Linked DNA regions of Homo sapiens: region 2 is linked to region 1. Evidence: fine-mapped expression QTL. A gene starts in region 1. The other region holds a variant in brackets. All regions are shown on one strand. Distances are from middle to middle. Region 1 holds the start of PABPN1L (PABPN1 like, cytoplasmic). Region 2 overlaps CBFA2T3 (CBFA2/RUNX1 partner transcriptional co-repressor 3).

Region 1 (10,294 bases):
GGAGAGGAAGACAGTGAGGAGAGGGGGGAGTCCATGGGGCTGGCCTCCCAGAGGCCCGCCAGCTCCCGTGCACACTTCAGAGATAAGGCCAGGGCGCTGCTGACAACCCCTGCTCCATTTTCCCGAAGTTCTAGGAAACTCCATTTTGGACACTTTCTGTTCTTTATGTTTCAATCCAGCCAAGCCCCGGAGTAGCTTCCCAAAGACCCAGAGGAACGGGAACTCAGCGTCAGTACTCAGAGTGAAACCTGCTTTTGAAATACGTCAATGACGGCAACAGGCCTCCCTTGTCCCCACCTGGCTGGGGTGGGGAGCCCCGCCAGGCCAGCTGTCAGCTCCCCAACCCCATCTGCCAGGGCCGAGGGGGTCGGGCCGGTGAGGACCAGGCGGGGGCACAGCCATGTGCAGCCTGGTGGGGAGGGGACTTACTCTCTACTTTCTCCTCCTCTTTTTTTTGACTCTCCCAGAGGAGTTGAGTTGTTTTCTGTAGTTGTGAGAAGCCCATGCCCTGGGTCTGCAGGCTGTGCAGGGCTGCGAGGTGGCCCTCGCCGCTCCGTCTGACGTACTATGGGTTTGGCCTGTAGATGCTGTGAGATGCAATAGTCGGGTTAGCGCCGTGTCCGTGTAATAAAGCGAACGTTCGCTGTCGCCTGGCTGTTCCTCTCCTTGGGTCCCAGGAGGCTTCGGCTGAGCCTCGTCTCACCCGTGAATTCACTAATTACCTGCTGGGGCTCCTCCGTGCCTGGTAGGGCGGGGCCTCCCCATGCACCACGCACACTGCAGGGACAAACAGGCCAGTGTGTGACGTGGGGCTGGGGCGACGGGGAAGAGGCAGGGCGGGAGCACGACGGGGAAGAGGCAGGGCGGGAGCACACAGGCAGGGAGGAGCAGCAGCCCCAGCCACGAGGGTCCCTGCAGGGCTGGCAACGGCTGAGCCTGCAAAGGGGACTTTGGGGGGGTCCCAACAACTTTACACCCGGGAGATGGTCCTGAGGATTCCAAGACTGGAGCCCCTGCCTGAGCAGCCCCACCTCAGACAGTGCTGGGGCTGGGGCCATGACACCTCCGACCCCGATGGGGGACACAGGGGACCTCAGGGGACACAGACAACACTGAGGGGAGGCCAGGCACGGTGGCTCACGCCTGTCATCCCGGCACTTTGGGAGGCCGAGGCGGGTGGATTGCCTGAGGTCAGGAGTTCAAGACCAGCCTGGCCAACATGGTGAAACCCCATCTCTTCTAAAAATACAAAAAATTAGCTGGGTGTGGTGGCGGGTGCCTGTAATCTCAGCTACTTGGGAGGCTGAGGCAGGAGAATCCCTTGAACTCAGGAGGTGGAGGTTGCAGTGAGCCGAGATCGTGCCACTGCACTCCAGTCTGGGCAACAGAGTGAGACTCCATCTCAAAAAAAAAAAAGAAATGAAAACTGAGGGGACACAGGGGACCTGAGGGTGGACAGCACAGGAAGGGACGGCTTGCCCCTCTCAGCCACCCCCATGGGGCCCTGGTGTTGGGTCACACACGGATCCTGTCTGGAATAGGAGTTGTCCTGGGCGCTGGGGCCCCAGGGGCCAGGCTGCCATGAATCCTCAGGCCCGGCTCTGGAACAGGGTGTATTTGAAGAGTGTCACTGGAAAGGCCAGGGTCGGAGCCGTCTGTCCCCTGCCAGGCAGCTGGCAGGAGCCCTGGCCGGGCCTTGTGTGTCAGCAATCTCAGACAGGGTGAGGATGACAAGGTTTTCCATGGCCGGGGCCCGAGCTCAGAGGGGCATGCGTCAGGGCCTGGGCCGAGTCCAGCAGACTCTGGTCTTGGATGGAACTGGTTGCAATCCTGCCTCTGACAGGGAGGTGGAGGCACGGGTGCTGGCAGACCCTCCAACACACAGGCACAGACACACGGGGCAGGGGGCTCCATCCCAACAGGAGGATCCCAGGCTGAGGCCGCACTCCACCCAGCGTACCTGTCCTCGGTGCAGATGTGGGCGCTGCCCCTGAGGAGCTTTGGTTTCTAAGGGGAGAGCTGGCCAAGTCATCAACACTGGACGGACAGCAGGAAAGGCGTGAGGACAGCGGCTCTCGAGGGAGGAGGAGCAGCCCGGCAGCCCTCCCGGAAACAGTGGCACCGTGTTCGCAGGGGGAACAGCGTCCAGGGACCACGCACACGTAAGTGTGTGGCTGTGCGGAGCCAGGGAGAGGGGAAGGGGCGTCCAGGGCCATAGCCAGGTTCCAGACAAGGCCCATTCCTCCCCGACCTCATGAGCCTGCCCCAGAAAATCCTCTGGGTGGTGAACAGATGGGGTGACAGCATGGTCTTCAGTCAGCCTCCTGGAGGTGGGAAAAGAAAACAGAATTTCGGGACCTAAAACGCACTAAGCCAAAGGGAAAAGTCAAGCTGGGAGCCGAATCACACACACCTGCCTCCCATTTTCTTCCTAATTGGACAGCCACGAAGATGAAGAAGCCTGTGCCTCCTCGCATCGCGCTTACAGGGAAATTCCTTGTGGGTCCCAAGATCTTGGCTCTGAAACAGTTCTGCTGGATCCCACCCAGATAGTGTGATCTAGCAGCTTATCTTCCCAGGTATGGGACAAAGGACAGAGCTAACGTTACCCTCCGCTCACCGGAGGCGAATGCGAACCTGCCAGCTTCCTATTCCCTGTGGCAGTTTTATCTTCTGTGGAAACGCAGAGTCGCTGAGCGTGGGGCTACGTAATTCTCTTCTCTACCCCCACCTTCCACATTTCAAAATGTGCATTTGGTGACTGCCAATCAGAGATTCAAAGGAACGCTACCACTTGCCTTTTATCCGCCCTCCCTTTTCTTTCCTTCCTGTGTTCCCCTCCTGCCCGCTCTTTCCCTTTAAGTATAAAAGTCTCCAAACCCTCTTTGGGTTTTTTTGTTTTTGTTTTTTGAGACAGTCTCACTCCGTCGCCCAGGCCGGAGTGCAGTGGCGCGATCTCGGCTCACTGCAACCTCTGCCTCCCGGGTTCAAGTGATTCTCCTGCCTCAGCCTCCCAAGTATCTGGGATTACAGGCGCCCGCCACCATGCCTGGCTAATTGTTTTTGTATTTTTAGTAGAGACAGGGTTTCACCATGTTGGCCAGGCTGGTTTTGAACTCCTGACCTTAAGTGATCCGCTCACCTCGGCCTCCCAGACTGCTGGGATTATAGGCGTGAGCCACCATGCCCGGCCTCCAAACCCTCTTTGGAAAAAGCAGAGCACAGATGTTGCCTGTGGCTTCGTGTTTCTTTTTCCTGGGTGCACCCTTAACCTTGGCAAGATACACCTCTAAACTGATTGATTGAGACCCATCTCAGACACCTTCTGGCTTTTACAGAGGTGAGAACAGACTGGGTGCAGGAGCCTGGGTTCCCAGGCTGTGGCAGCCTCCATGTCCACCTGCTCCCCGAGCCCCCAGCCCAAGATGGAGGAAGGGCCGCCCTGCGTGGGTGGTGCATGGTGCAGCAGTGCAGCTCCAGCCTAGGCCACGCCCTGTCTCTCTCTCCTCCCCCAGTCCCAAATTCCCAGGAATCCCAGCCCCACTGGCTAAACACCGGGGTGCAGTCACAGAGAGGATGGCCTCGGCCTGGGGGTAGGAGCTGTGCAGGGGGCCCCGTCTCCCACCACCAATGGCAGGGGTAAGAGCCATGCATGACCCCCTGGCCCCGAGTCCTTCACAGAGTGGGTGGGAGACGGCAGCACTGGAGATGAAGGCCAGAGCAGACTCCAGCAGCCGCGGTGGCAGGTGCAGAGGGAGGCGCAAGGGCGGACACGGGTCACCTCCTGCTGCAACCCTGCATGGGTGAAGCCAGGTGCAGACACCACCGGATGCCCACTGAATTCCGCCACAGTAACTCACGCCGTCACTCCCCACGGAGACCCCGCCCCACAATAACTCACGCCGTCACTCCCCACGGAGCCCCCGCCCCACAGCAGAATAATTCTGGCCTCATGGAAGTGGCTCCCACCTAAAAGATGACCCAGACCAGGTGCGGTGCTCACGCCTGTAATCCCAGCACTTCGGGAGGCCGAGTCGGGCGGATCACCTGAGGTCAGGAGTTCGAGACCAGCCTGGGCAACATGGTGAAACCCTGTCTCTACTAAAAAGACAAAAAAAATTAGCTGGGCATGGTGGCAGGTGCCTGTAATCCCAGCTACTCAGGAGGCTGAGGCAGGAGAATCACCCGAACCTGGGAGGCAAAGGTTGCCGTGAGCCGAGATCGCGCCACCGCACTCCAGACTTGGCAACAAAGCAAGACTCCTGCCTAAAAAAAAAAGAAAAAAAAAAAAAAGGCCCAGAATAAGGGTTAGGGAGGCAAGGGTCCCTGGGGACTCCATGGGGGTCAGGATGCAGAGACAGCTGTTGCTGCCCCTCCTCTGGGCCCAGGACCCCGCCCCAACCTGCCTCGGCCCTCTCATCCCATGCACCTGCTCTCGGTCTCTGCTCAGGCCCTGCCTCTCCTGGTCGGAAGCCACCTCTCCAGCCTGCTTGGTCCCTGGTACTAGAAGAAACCACTCCCGTGTTCCCACTTAGATCGAGTGTTCATGCAGTGTGGCGTTCGTGCCGTGTGGATGCTGCTGAGGTGTGAACCCTGTCACAGACCAAGGCTCCAGTGAGCCACAGCGTGGCCAGGCGGAAGCAGAAGAGACCGGTGACCCCCACTCAACTCAGCCTCTCCTTCCTCCAGGGAGAGTGTCCTGGAGGTACCTGTCCGAGTGACAGGGAAGGGGCGGGGCCGGGAGCCAAGGCTGGAAGCTCAGCCCCACTCAGCCTTTGCAAATGCTCTAGTGGGAGCAGCTGGCCTCAGGGGAGGGCTTAAAACTCCAGGAGAGCCTGGGCAGGTGCGGACGCGAGGGGAGTGGAGGGGAGGCCTCGCCTGGCCCACCTTCCTCCTGCCCCTCTACCATGTGGCCCTTCCCGAGCCGCTCTCTCTTCCCACCCCCGACTCAGGCCTGGCTCCAGACGGTCTCCTCAGACCCTGAGGCCCAGGGCTGGGGGGCCTGGAACGAGACCAAGGAGATTCTGGGGCCAGAGGGTGGGGAAGGGAAGGAGGAGAAAGAGGAGGAAGAGGATGCAGAGGAAGACCAGGATGGGGATGCAGGCTTTCTGCTGTCTCTGCTGGAGCAAGAGAACCTGGCTGAGTGCCCATTGCCTGACCAGGTAACAGCTGTGTGGAGGCCCTGGGGATCTCAGGGGACCTGGGGCACAGGGGCTGGTGGAGACACGGGGTCTGGGTGACGGATGGCTGCAGCTGACTTAGGAGGGGAGAGGGCCATTGCCCACCTGCCTGGACGAAGGTGGCAAGGAGACCCCCCGCCCCCAGCCACACAGACTGCAGGGTCAAGGTGGCCTCTCTCGCCTGGGGAAGGGCCCTTGAGGTGCGGTTTCGGGGGCTTCTCTGCAGGGGCGAGTTCATCCCCAGCCAGCTGCCCCAGGAAGGAGTGTCCCTGTCCAGAGAAGGGCTGCCCCTTGGGGCTGTGACCCTCTGCTGGAGCTGGCAGGCCACACACCCACCTTCCTTGAGCAGAGCCTGCAGGCTGCCTGCCCGGCTCAGGGCCGTGTGTCGGCAGGAGCTGGAGGCCATCAAGATGAAGGTGTGTGCCATGGAGCAGGCCGAGGGGACGCCACGGCCTCCAGGAGTGCAGCAACAGGCCGAGGAAGAGGAGGGCACCGCGGCCGGGCAGCTGCTGAGCCCTGAGACCGTGGGTAGGAACCAAGGGCACAGGCCGCCCCCCACTGAGCAAGGGTCCCACAGTTTCCATTAAGGTTGGGCCTGGCAGGCTCCAAGGTGTCACCTCCCCTATAAGCCTGGGCGACCTTCCCCGTGAGAGGAGTGAGGAAGGAACCAAGGGCCTGCGGGCCTGAGCTGTGTTCTCCGCAGGCTGCCCCCTCTCTGGGACCCCCGAGGAGAAGGTGGAGGCTGACCACAGATCCGTCTACGTGGGCAACGTGAGTGGTGGGCGGGGTGAAGGGGCAGGCAGCGAATGGGGCCCCATCTCTACCAGAGGGTCTGGCGCCCGGCCATGGGCCAGGCAGCCTTGCTGGGAAGGGGGTCTGACCCTGGGGGCAGCCCCGTCACCTTGAGGAAACACTGGCCTGGGCACATATTCCAGTTTTTCAACATGAGCTGGAATTCGGGGTTGCACATGAAATCTCCACTTTTGAGAAGCTTTTTAAAAGGCTCCAGCTCTCCAGAAGGAAGCGCTCCATACGAGATATCCTTTCCTCTCTTCCCTCCAACCCCAGCGGGGGTGTGGGGTGGAGGCCTGGGGCCATCCCCGCCACGGGGCCCAGCCTTGGGGTTTCTTTCCTCACCTCTAACAAGAAGGCCCCGAGTCAGGGCCAGGCGTCTCCCTCACATGCTGGTCTGGGCCTGGGTGCAGGTGGACTACGGGGGCTCCGCCGAGGAGCTGGAGGCCCACTTCAGCCGCTGTGGGGAGGTCCACCGAGTCACGATCCTGTGTGACAAGTTCTCTGGACACCCCAAGGGGTCAGTGTGGGGCCTGGTGGGGGCACTGGCCATGCGGACAGGGCCCAGCCTCACCCCTCCCCTCCCTGCCCCTCCCCTCAGTTATGCCTACATAGAGTTTGCCACCAAGGGCTCCGTGCAGGCCGCCGTGGAGCTGGACCAGAGCCTCTTCCGGGGCCGGGTCATCAAGGTGCGCCGGTGCTCCCCAGGTCCAGGAACATGAGCGCAGAGGGGCTGGCCCACTGGCCCTGGGACACACAGCAGCCCCAGCTGGCTCCTCTCTGCACAGCGTGTCTCAGGCACGGTGCTTGGCTGGGCCTGGACAGGATGTGGCGGGACCCTCGGACCTGAAGCTGGGTTTGGTCTGCCAGTGGCATGGTGGGGAAGTGTCCCCTCTCGGGCGGGAGCCCCCTCTGCAGGGGTGCTGGCCGTGACCCCCCCCTCTGCAGGGGTGCTGGCCGTGACCCCCCCCTCTGCAGGGGTGCTGGCCGTGACGGGGTGTCATATGACAGCTATGGTAGGCAAAGGCAGGGAACCCTGTAGGCCCGAATGGTATCCTGAGCCGGGCAGGACCCCATGCTCCGGGGTGGTGGGGGCTGCGGGGGCTGTGAGCTGGGTCTCGGCTGCTCCTTGAGGAGGACTCAAAACAGGCCTTTGCTCCAGGTGCTGCCGAAAAGAACCAACTTCCCTGGGATCAGCTCCACAGACCGCGGGGGCCTTCGAGGACACCCAGGCTCCAGGGGGGCACCCTTCCCCCACAGCGGCCTCCAGGGCAGGCCCCGGCTCAGACCACAAGGGCAGAACCGGTGAGTGGGTGCCTGTGGGGGCAGCCTGGGGGCGAGGGCCATGGTGGAGGGCATCAGGGGCAGGAGGGGGTCCCTGAGCTCGTTCCTCATGGGGCTGCAGGAATGTACCTGGCGGGGCCTGGGTGAGGGCTGTGGCTGCTGCATCAGCTGGTGGGGGGGGCGCTTTTTGTAGCCTCTCTGCTGGGAGAGGTGACCCCTTCTTGTTCCCACAAAGGCCCCAGGGTGGGCTACAGCTGCCCCAAGGGGCTCTCCTGGCACTGCCTTTCCTTTTCGTGGGACCCTCCCAAGAGAGCAGCTGGGAGTCACCAGAAAGGCCCCTGGGGCATTGCCTGAGCAGCCAGGTGACCTCCCTGCATCCTTATCCTGTTGTCCCCCGGGGCCCTGGGCCACCACCCCTTCTCCTCTGGAAGGCCACTCAGTGTGTGTTCTCTCTCCGTGCAGGGCCCGTGGAAAATTCTCACCATGGTTTTCACCGTATTAAAGGGAAGACCCGATTTTGAGAGAGGGGCTGGGGCCTGGATCAGGAGTAAACCACTTGTGCTCCATCCTGGGGCTGGGGCAGGGAGTGGCGCGGGGGCGAGGCCAGAGGAGAGGGGTGTCCAGAGCAGCCACTGGCCCCCTCTTGGCGGGGGGATGGCCCAGTAGGGCCTTGTATGGTGGTCCAGACCCAAGGCCACAGCCACGAGTCACAGCCACGGCCCGGTGGTGAGCCTGGCATGGGCCCCACGGGGATCTGCGGGGCTCTGGGTGTTGAGGGAGGGGAGGAGCAGAGTCCCAGGCAGTGCCAGGCCAGCTTGGGGTTGGCATGCTCAGCTCTTCAACTAAGTCATTTTAAGAAAAATAGAAACGTGTGTCTTAATGGTGAAGCATAAATTATTAAACTTGGGCTCTTTTTAAAAGCAAATGGCAGCAGCACTCCTGTGCATTCCCCCCATGGACACAGTTCCCTTTGCATCTCTCCCTGGGACGGGACACGCGGTTCCCTCCGCGTCTCCCCGTGGGACGGGGCGCGCGGTTCCCTCCGCGTCTCCCCGTGGGACGGGACACAGAAGGCGGCTGGCGAGCCGTGGCTGTGGGATGAGGACAGGGCTCCAGACCCCTCGCGACTGACAGCAAGCGGGCAGCGTGCACAGGCTGAGGCGGTGTCAATGCCACTGCCAGCCTGGTGGGCTGCAACTGCCTGTCAAGGTGCCCCCACACCTCGTAACCCTGCCACATGTCCCCCACCAAGTGACACAGACACCCGGGACGCTGGCCCTTGTCAGAAGCTCAGGAAGCAGAAGTGGAGGTCTCTGTCCTGGGCACTTTGACGACTGTCCCCTCTGAAAGCACAGCCAGTCGGGCTCCCTGGCTGCATGCACGGCCGCAGAAGCCCAAGGCTGCTTATGTGCACACACCTGACTCCAGCATTCCACGACTAACAGCGCCTCATCAGGCACTGTTTCCTTGGGCTTAAAATGGGGATGCTGCCTAACAAGGCTTGTGAAAACGCCCTCATGTAAAAAGTACTTACAGGTGGGTCTGGCTGCACCTAACAGAAAACCCAAAAATCAGTGGCTTAAACCAGAGAGGGGTGCATTTATTTTCTCACATTAAAAAAAAAGCTGAATTTAAGTAGTCTGGGGCTGGTATGTCAGCAAAGGCCCAGGGTCCTTCCCGCGTTCTGCGTCAGCAAAGGCCCAGGGTCCTTCCTGTGTTCTGCTCCACTGTCCTTAGGGTGTGACCCTTTCCTCACGCTCTCAGGACAGCTGTCCCAGCACCAGCCATCACATCCATGTTCCAGGCAGGAAGAAGGCAAAGGGGAAGGGTCCTGCATGTGGCAGCTGAGTCCCCTTCACAGGAGCTTCCCTGCAAGTCTCTCCCAGCACCACCCACCTCCACGCCACAGCTGCACACCCCGGGCTGCAAGGGAGCCCAGGACATGGCTCTCGTCTGCCCGCTATTGGAACTGGGCAGAGGCACCGGGGTTCTGTTAGTACGGAGGAAAGAGAATGGACGCTGGGTTAGCAACTTGCAGAGTCCCCACCACAGCCAGGACTCGGGCAGGAGTGATCCCCACTAAAAGGCAAAGATTTCATGCCAGGCTGCAATGGGGAAGTGCTTGGGCTGGGGTCCCACCTTCTCCTAACAAACATGAGGCTCTTGTTAAAGATTTAACCTTGTGAGAGTGGTCTGTGGCCCACATGCACCCAGATCAGCTGCCTGGTGTGCCTCGGCCCATTCCAGGGCTTCCAATTCACCCTGGGGCGGGGGAGGCCTGGGGCATGCAGTTTTCCCACACTCCTTGCTGATTTTTTCTTCTATAATTTCTAAAATTAACACTGTGCTTGCTAGATGGGATGAAAAGGCAAATATGTATCAAGAAAGTTCCCCTCCCTAGGTCCTGCCCTAGGCTGACCCCCCCTTACAGCCTTTCCTGCTGCAAGGGCTTCTGGGGTCCTCAAGGTCCTTGAGAAACTCTCCAGTCCTGGACCAGTGCTGGAACCAACTCCGGGGGGGTCCCCTCAGCGGGCTGAGCCTTGACCGCTGGACCCCAAGGACGCCGGCGGCACTGACGCCACTATGGGCTCGGCCGCTGCCCTGGGTGGTAGTCAGCCACGTCATCAAGTGACACAGCACCCAACCCCCTCAGCACCAACAGGCAGGAGGGGGTGCCTCAAGTCTGCGCTCCAAGGTTTAGGACCAGGGCTGCAGCTGAGCCAACGCCGCGGGGCCACGAGGCTTCCCAGGTTTCACAAGGGCTCCTTTTAAGGCCGGGCGGAATCCAGACATTGAGCCAGATGCAAAGAATGGAGGCCAAGTCCAGAAAGAGGAGGGCCCTCCCCTGTGGGAAGCCACGCCGGCTCCCCTTGTGCCCCTAGATCCTAGGCTGGTTCTGGGCTCAGGAGGCCACCCCCTCCAGACCAGCCCACCTGTTCAGCCAGTGGGTGACCCACATGGTCACAGGTCCTGCAGGCTCAGGAACTCTTGGCTCCAGGCACCCCTGCCTCTGCCCCTTTGGGACAACTGAGGACAGG
Region 2 (8,000 bases), 100 kb before region 1:
AGTGGCCCCATGGGGGCGGCTCTAGGAGGCCACTCTTTAGGCGAAGACAACTTTCACTTCTCACCACATGTGGACCGAGAAGCAGTGCGTCCCGTTAACCTGCCTGGGCGCTGGGCAGGGGTTTTCCGGCACTTTCACTTCCGTGACTGCAGTTGACCGGGGAGGCGCAGGCAGGAAGAGCGGCCTCAGGGAGAGGCCGATTGGTCACAGCTGAGCCAGGACTCGCCGGCCAGTGCTCCTCCGAGGAGACGTCGGCCAGGGGCAGCTGGAGAGAAGCAGGGAAAAGAGAGGCCTGTCTGAGGGCCGCCCACCCACCCTTTGAAGGAACTCCAGCTGGGAGCTGTGGACTGGGTCACTCAGGTCGACTGTTACAAAGCCAGAGGCCGGCCTGCAGCAGGCGCCAATGAAGTTCTCAGCACAAAACCCCCAAGTCCACCCCCAGGACGGCCGCTCCCAGGCCTGTCGGGCAGTTGCCCAGGACACAGGTCCACAGCGGGGACCCCACCGAGGGGCTTCCTCTCCCAGCTCTGCCCACCCCAGGCCCCAGGCAGCTCTCTCAGGTGGGCAGAGAGTGGCTGGGTCACCATGTCATTTGAAAAATCAAGGCCAGGTGCCGTGACTCATGCCTGTAATCCTAGCACTTTGGGAGGCCGAGGCAGGCGGATCACTTGAGGCCAGGATTCCGAGACCAGTCTGGCCAACATGGCAAAACCCTGCCTCTAGTAAATATACAAAAATTAGCTGAGTGTGGTAGTGGGTGCTTGTAATCCCAGCTACTCGGGAGGCTGAGGCGGGAGAATCGTGTGAACCCAGGAGGCAGAGGTTGCAGTGAGCCAAGATTGCGCCCCTGCACTCCAGCCTGGATGACAGAGGGAGACCGTGTCTTTAAAAAAAAAGGAAAATTGAGTTGATGAAAACACGTCAGCCACATCACACCTGCGCACACCCACGGCCCAGCCCTCCCGGCCCGACCCCACCGCGTCGGCCTCCGGCACTCACAGCCCCGGCTGCCTGGCGGCTCCACAAGCCTCCCGAGCCCGTGCCTGTGCTATGCCCTCGCCGAGGAGCCCCCTCCCGACCGACCTCCTTCCCTCGGTGTTCCTCTCCTTCAATCTGTCACCCCATGAGAAAAACCAGCTGCCCCCTTACGTACTACTCATCCCCCGGCCCCCAGCGTCGGCTGCACGAGACAGGGGCTCTGGTGCCTGCTTGCAGCAGGGCCCTCAGCAGACGGTGCTGGCCCAGGAGGGTGCTGAGCCCTGGAAGGCGTGAGTCTATTCCATCTCCAGGCGAGGCGAGGCCTCCGTGCTCCTGGTCCTTCAGTTGTTACTTGGCTGTGTGCATCCTGCTGGTGCTGAGGCAGGGACTGGCTCCACAGTTTTCCCAGGAACTCAGGCCCTGTGGCCCCGGAGGGAAGGGGCAGACGGCAATCCCTTCCCGGCTTTCACCCGGCAACACTTCAAGGGCATCGCTGACCTCAGATGAGGACACAAATCAGAAAGGTCAGGAAACCAGCCGAGCTCACACAGCGGGGCTGGGGTGGGCCACGTCCTCCCAGGCTGTGCATCTCTGCCAGGGACCCTCCCAGAGGCAAGGCAGCTGAGGTCGCATCTCAGGAGAGGGACCCCACTGCACGCCCTGCTCTGAGACGAGAGCCGCGCCCTCAGCTGAGCCCCTCCGAACCCACCTCTCCGTCTCCTTGCTTCACCTGAGGAAGCCCCACGCAGGTGCTGCCTGACACCCGCGTCGCCGACCCCTGGATCAAGCACATCCTGACACCCAGCTGATCACACAGCAAGGCTGCCGGCTTGGGGCCGCCGCCACCGCCTCCTGGAGTGAAATCCTCTCTCGGCCCAGGACAGCTGCAGAGCAGCCGTTTCACTGGCAGCTTTTGGAGAGTGGGCCAACCCCTCCCCCAGGCCTGCCTCCCACTGACGTGAATTTCCATCAGCTTTTCCAGGCGCCCCCTTTGTGGAGACGAGGACTCCTGGGGTGAGGGCCCCAAGTGTGGCTTTCTCCCTGGGAGGAGTGGGGCCAGAAGGCATGCCCTCCTGAGAAGACATGGCAGAAGCCTCCAACAGCCACAGCTTCTGGGGCTCATTTTGGGAGGCCCCTGTGGAGGGGGATGGGGTGAACCCACAGCCTTGCAGAAGATCGGGGGCTCTGCCAAATCGCAACCCCCCAGGCCATGCTCACCCTAACTGGACCGGGTCCACGGTGCCCTCTAGTAGGGCCCACCGGGAGCCCCAGCACCTGCCCCCCGGCACCTGCCACTCGCACCCTGGCAGCCAAGCCTGGCCTGCTGCCCTGAGCCTGCAAGATGCAGCCCCACGGGCGGTGCTGAGGTCTGTGCGTCGTCAGGCCGGCCCCGCCCCCCTCTCCCTCGGCTCCCTGGTCTGTGAGGGGCAGTGGCTGGACCCGACCATGGTGGGAATGGAAACTGCTGTCCACCGGCCACGCTGACCCCAGCCTGTCTCCTGTTTGTAAAACGGGGTGGCGGCGAGCCCCTCCTGAAGGCTGGGGTGGGATTTGGTGAGGAAAGACCCTCTTCCTGGCACTCCTTCCCAAGGGGCCCCGCTCTTGCGACCCCCGCAGCTGGCCCTGCAGACACCAGGCCTCCCACCCCTGCCAAGGCCAGGAGGCACCAGCCGGGAGGGAGCCCAGTAGAGAAGGAACTGGAGAATTCACCCCACCCTGTGGGCTCCCGGAGCTTCCTCCTGAGCTCCCAAGTCCAGGTGTGTTTTGAGTGTCTAGAAAGTCCCGACTTCACAGACCTGAGGGGGACAGAGTGGGGGAGGGGACCTTGCAACCGTCCCTCCAGCCGTGTCCGCTGCAGCCCCTCACTCCAGATGGCGGTGACCCCGGCGGCATCCGGGCCAGGCTGCAGCCGAATCCCAGAGCCGGTGGAGCCAGCCTGACCCAGCCGACTGCTCACGAGAGGATGGGGGATTCCTCAAAACGGGGGCACCAGGCCGCACACTGGGGCTGGGTCTGCTGAGGGCTTGCTCTGGCTGGGCTCCCAGATTTAGAGAGCAGATCTTAGGCTCCTGGCCCCCGATTTGTGTGAGGCCTGCAGCGCTGCAGACCCTGGAGCTCAGAGGGGTTATGGTCCATGGGGGTCACATGGCACTCAGGTCCAGGGCCTCGCCACCCTGTCACTGCAAGTCACCCAATCAGCCCCCACCCGCTGACCGCACACCCCTCCGTGCCAGGCGCAGGGTGCAGAAATGAAAGAGGCGTCCCCGCTGGAGGGGCTCGGTGCAAACTGGACCCCGAAGCTTCTTGCCGCTTATTCCCAAGGGGGCCTGCAGTGGTGGGTGTTGTCCTGACACCCCCAGCCCCAGACAGACGGACTGACAGGCGGGGGACGGACAGCCGTCTCAGCTGCTTCTGCCCCTCCAACACGGCAGCATATTCTAGACCAAGGGTTGGGACCACGTGTTCTAAAAGGTCACCAGCAGGTGACAGAAGATGCCAGTCAGATCTGCCCTCATCTGCTCTCGGCCCCCAGGGGCTTCTCCCACCCCAGGTCCTCCTGAGACGCAGCTGAGGCTGGGCCTGGCTCTGTCCCCACTGCCAGGAGCCGTGAGGCTTGTCCTGCGGCCCCTCAGCTGGGGCTTCCTCGTCTGCAGTGCAAGGGGCCGTCCCCACCTGGGGGGCTCTCCGGGCGGCGGGTGGGAAGGGAGACAGCAGGCAGCCGCTTCCTGGCGAAACTGAAACTGCCAGGTGCTTCCCGCCCCTCCCTACTGAGCCCCTCCCCAGGGCCAGAGACAGCTGGGACGGGCAGTCCTGCGGCCAGGGCCCCTGGCAGTCCCCTGTGGTCCACCCTTATTCGGCCTCTCACCAGGGCGTGCCTCTCTGGGCCTATTTCCTCCAGGTGGGCCCCAGCA[T/A]GGGCGGTATGGGGGGTTCCTCATCAAAGCCCTGTGGTCACATGGTCCCAACTCAGCCCCATGACCCGTCGAACCCACAGAATTTCAGTCACTTTAGTCATGGTGCGAAAAGAAGGATGCAGAAAGCTTAAAAGTTTATAAACTGAACATGTGTGAAAATGGTGACATTCTGGAGGCCACAGAGCGACCTCTCCTCTTTCCCTTCTACTTCCTACCTCTGGCTGCAAGGGAGGGTGGGCGCCTCCACACAGCTCACGCCGACCCCCGCTGGACGCGCTGCTCCGGGGCAGGGGGCGTCCTGAGTTCCCCGGTGCCCTGGACAGGAAGGGGCAGTGTGAGGGCTGAGCCGCGACGAGCCCCCAGGCAGTGTGCGCCTGACCCTCACCCCTGTGCTCTGTGGCTGATCTTTAACCCCCCAGGAGAAGCCAGGTCGCGGGAGCCACGCAGGGCAGCACGCCGTCCCCGTCCCCGGCCTGCTCCTTCCTTCCCTCTTCTTTATAGAAAGGAATTCCTGTAGGTCCAGTGTCCCCAGCCCGGAAGGCCACCCCACCTGGGGGCGGCGAGATGGGATCAAGGGGTTGGGGGGACCTAGCTCAGAGGCTTAGCCACCCCACACCCCACCACGGCTTCCTCATCGGTAAATGGGGCAATAGCAGTCCCCGTCTCCGGCACATCTGTGAAAACTGAACAGGTGGACGCATGGCAGCACTTAGGGTGTGGAAAGCCGTCCCCAGGCATCCTGCCCCGTCCCCGTCGCTCCCAGGCAGTGTGTCTCGCACAGTTACAGAAAAGGCATCGAATTCTCATTTTCCTTTGCAATTTCCTCTCTCGACACCTGCGAGGCTGACTGCATTGAGCATGGTGCTGCCTCGTGTCGGGGCCGAGTGGCACCTCGGGGGCTGGGGGGGTGGCATGGCGCTGCCTCGTGTCGGGGCCGAGTGGCACCTCGGGGGCTGGGGGGTGGCATGGTGCTGCCGCGTGTCGGGGCCGAGTGGCACCTCGGGGGTTGGGGGTTGGGGGTGGCACACACCAGCGCACTGTTCTCAGCTTCCCTATGGAGAGAGGTTGAGTGCGTCAATTTCCCGTGCTACAAACAATGCTTCAATCAAGGATGCTTTCCCTCGTCCCCTGGGGCCCACATGGTTTCTCCAAGGCAAACACAAGACATTGGCCACAGGGACTAGAGTGTGATACGAAGTTCTCATCCTGGGCTTCCAGAGTCCAGGGTGGGTGTGGGCCCTATCCCGGCTTCCTGGGGGAAATGAGCGCCTGGTCTCTGAGGGGCAGCAGTGGGCGTGCTGCATCCGACTTCCATCTGGGTGGCTCTGCAAGCCAGGCAGGGCCAGGGCACGGGAGTCACTGGAGACGCCCCCCACCCCAACCCACCCAGCTCGTGTTCAGAAAGGCCTCTGTCCAGCGCAGGTGTTGGTGATGGCAGGCAGTGGTTCTGGAGGTCAAGAGTGTCCATTGCTCCTGGAGGAATTCCTTGTTTGTGGAAACCAGGGCCGGCCTCCAAGGGAGGCTGGGAAGCTGGGCGCTGGGCAGGGCCTGGCACCGGGTGCTTCTACTGCTTCCACTACTGAGTTCATGGGAGGCCAGAGGTTGATTGGGCCTGGTCCTCGTCTGGACATGGGTTTGGTGGTCACCCCAGGTGGGATGAGGGTGTGGCAGGGGAGGTAGCCCAGCCATGCTGCACAGGTGGGAGAGGGGCCGGGAGGTCTGTGGACTCGCGATCCCCCGCTCTGCTCTCCTCTGTGGGCACTCACAGGGGCTGCCACCCCCCTACCCCGGCACAGGCCTCACTCCTGCCAAGGACCAGGGTAAAATGGCAGCCCTGTTAGCTGGCTGCTCTGGAGTCTGTCCCTAGAGACGGCCTAATGTGGCCAAGATGTGTTTCAGGAAGCCGTGCTGTGACTCAGGTCGGGGAAGTCCTGGGACTGTGCAGGCCAGTGAGCAGAGTGACCCTCAGAGCAGAGCGACCCACACAAACCGGGAAAGCCCACTCCGTCCAGAGGGGCCCCACCTTGCAGCTACGAGAGGAGGCGAGGTCTGCTTTCCCTGGCCAAGGAGTGGCCCAGGGGGAACTCTGTATGCACCCATGCTCTGTGGGGTCTCTCTGTTCCTGCTGCCGAATGGGCCCCCGTCCCCTCCCCTGACATCAGCCCACAGAGGAGGGACCGGGCACAGTGGAGAGGACCTGTCAGGTGCCAAGCACCAGGCCCGATTCTCAAAGCCGGTGGTTCTGTGGGCTTTTAATGCTTTTGTTTGCGAGCTCCCTAAAACTTTTTTTTGACAAGCCAAGTTCCCCTATAAGATGAAATTGCTTACAAAGCAGCCTCACCCAGCCTGGCCACACACAGACCTTATGCTGCTTCGTTTTTGGCAGATAATGGTGGCCCAGGAGCCACTAGAGAGGTTTTCAAACATGACAGGTATCTGTGGACAAGACGTTGTTAAAATAAATAAGGTGACAGCTGCACCCCGCAACCTCACCACTGGGTCACAGAAGAACAGCTGCATACAGTGTGTGAGGCATGTGTTGGCCGTGGCACACACCTGTTCTGCAAACTCTCTGCCCCGCAGGGACCTAGCCCCCTGGGTTGTAGAAGCAGGATTCGGGGCCTGTGGCTGGCGCTGCGCACCAAGTATCCTTCTAAACCAAAGGCTGGACACAGGACCCTTGGCAATGGTGCCACATGGGCCAATTTGCAGCCTCTAAACATTGATTAAACAGTCTCAAAAACTGTATTTTCTAGCATACCTAATATGTTACCAGTGTTTGGCATCTGGTCTTATGAAAATCTGCACATTTAGCTCACTTGATTTATAGAAATGCTGCCTTAAAAACAAAGGGCAGAACTGGTCCTCACTGAAAAACAATCTGCCCAGACTGATGTTTGTCAGATATTAATTCAAATAAGCATGTTATTAAATGATCCAAATGCCTCACTTTGAATTCTAATTGTGATATAGATGGATGGATGTGTGGGTGGGTGGGTGGGTGGATGGATGGATGGATGGATGGATGGATGGATAGATGGGTGGGTGGATAGATGGATGGATGGGTGGATGGATGGATGGATGGAGAAGTGCATAGGTGGTGGGTGGATGGATGGATAGATGGATAAATAGATGGTGGGTGGGGTAGGTGGATGGATGGATAGATGGATAGATGGATGGATGGATGGATGGATGGATGGATGGATGGATGGATAAGTGGATAGATGGTGGATGGATGGATGGATGGACAGTTGGATAGATGGTGGGTGAGTGGATGGATGGGTGGGTGGATAGATAGATGGATGAATAGATGGGTGACTGGATGGATAGATGGTGGATGGATGGGTGGATGGATGGATGAGTGGGTGGATGGATAGATGGGTTGGTGGGTGGATAGATGGATGGGAAGATAAAAAGGTAAGGAAGCAGGAAGGAAAGGTCAAAGTATATTTTTCAAATCTTAAAAACATAGTTCTTATACACACATACAGTAAGCATGTGTGAAAGGTGTATTATTCCGCGATGAGGGAGCCAGTCGGGCAGCCCAGGTGATTCAGAGGGGACGAGGGACATTAAAGACCCCATGAAGAAGGAAAGCCACACGGAACCTGACGAGTGGGAATTAGTGAAGTGCAATCTTTCTTCAGAACAACAAGTAGCTTGCAACTTGTCAGTTTTCTGCACCCTAACCCTAACTGAAGCCTCACCAGCAGTAAATTAAAAGTCAAAAGAGGCCACTGGGCCCTTGGCAGCCTGGCTAACACCAGGAGGGCCAGAAGTCAACGTGATTTTTTACACCTTTGGGTCTGTGGTTTCCGAACAGGAGGCAGGCAGGGCATGGGGCCTGCCCCAGGTTTTCACTGGTGGGTCGAAGCCCTGTCATCAGACTCATGCTAGAGAGAGGCAACCCATGAATTGGGGGAAGAGCAGGCAGGAGCAGCACACAGCTGACCCCAAGCCGTGTTTGCAGAACAATCTGGAAGGTGAAGACCCACATATGGATTCCTTTAAGCCGATCGGCCCAGGTATGCAGATGGTCTTGTGTGCGTGGCCCTTTAAAGACCCCCATAGAGCTGTGCCACCTACCTCACAGGTGCAGGGCTGGGAGCT

The links.
Region 2: its variant is fine-mapped to the expression of PABPN1L in whole blood (TOPMed, PIP 0.97).

What each region holds. Positions count from the first base shown.
Region 1 is chr16:88,861,220-88,871,513 of GRCh38, reverse strand. It overlaps PABPN1L (PABPN1 like, cytoplasmic), which reads left to right and starts at 4,854. Exons shown (of 7, transcript NM_001080487.4): 1 at 4,854-5,162; 2 at 5,573-5,708; 3 at 5,884-5,951; 4 at 6,386-6,492; 5 at 6,574-6,661; 6 at 7,135-7,277; 7 at 7,719-8,181. The coding sequence starts at 4,908. The coding sequence ends at 7,758. TRAPPC2L (trafficking protein particle complex subunit 2L) reads right to left here. Exons shown (of 5, transcript NM_001318525.2): 5 at 8,836-10,294. RefSeq lists enhancers at 147-286, 7,004-7,754.
Region 2 is chr16:88,964,014-88,972,013 of GRCh38, reverse strand. All of the region lies in intron 1 of CBFA2T3 (CBFA2/RUNX1 partner transcriptional co-repressor 3), which reads left to right. Among named protein-coding and RNA genes, the nearest start is that of CBFA2T3, 9.2 kb to the left of the region's middle. RefSeq lists enhancers at 114-253, 2,146-3,001, 3,971-4,030, 5,823-5,882 and a silencer at 4,261-4,310. The variant T/A (reference allele first, on the strand shown) is at 3,891.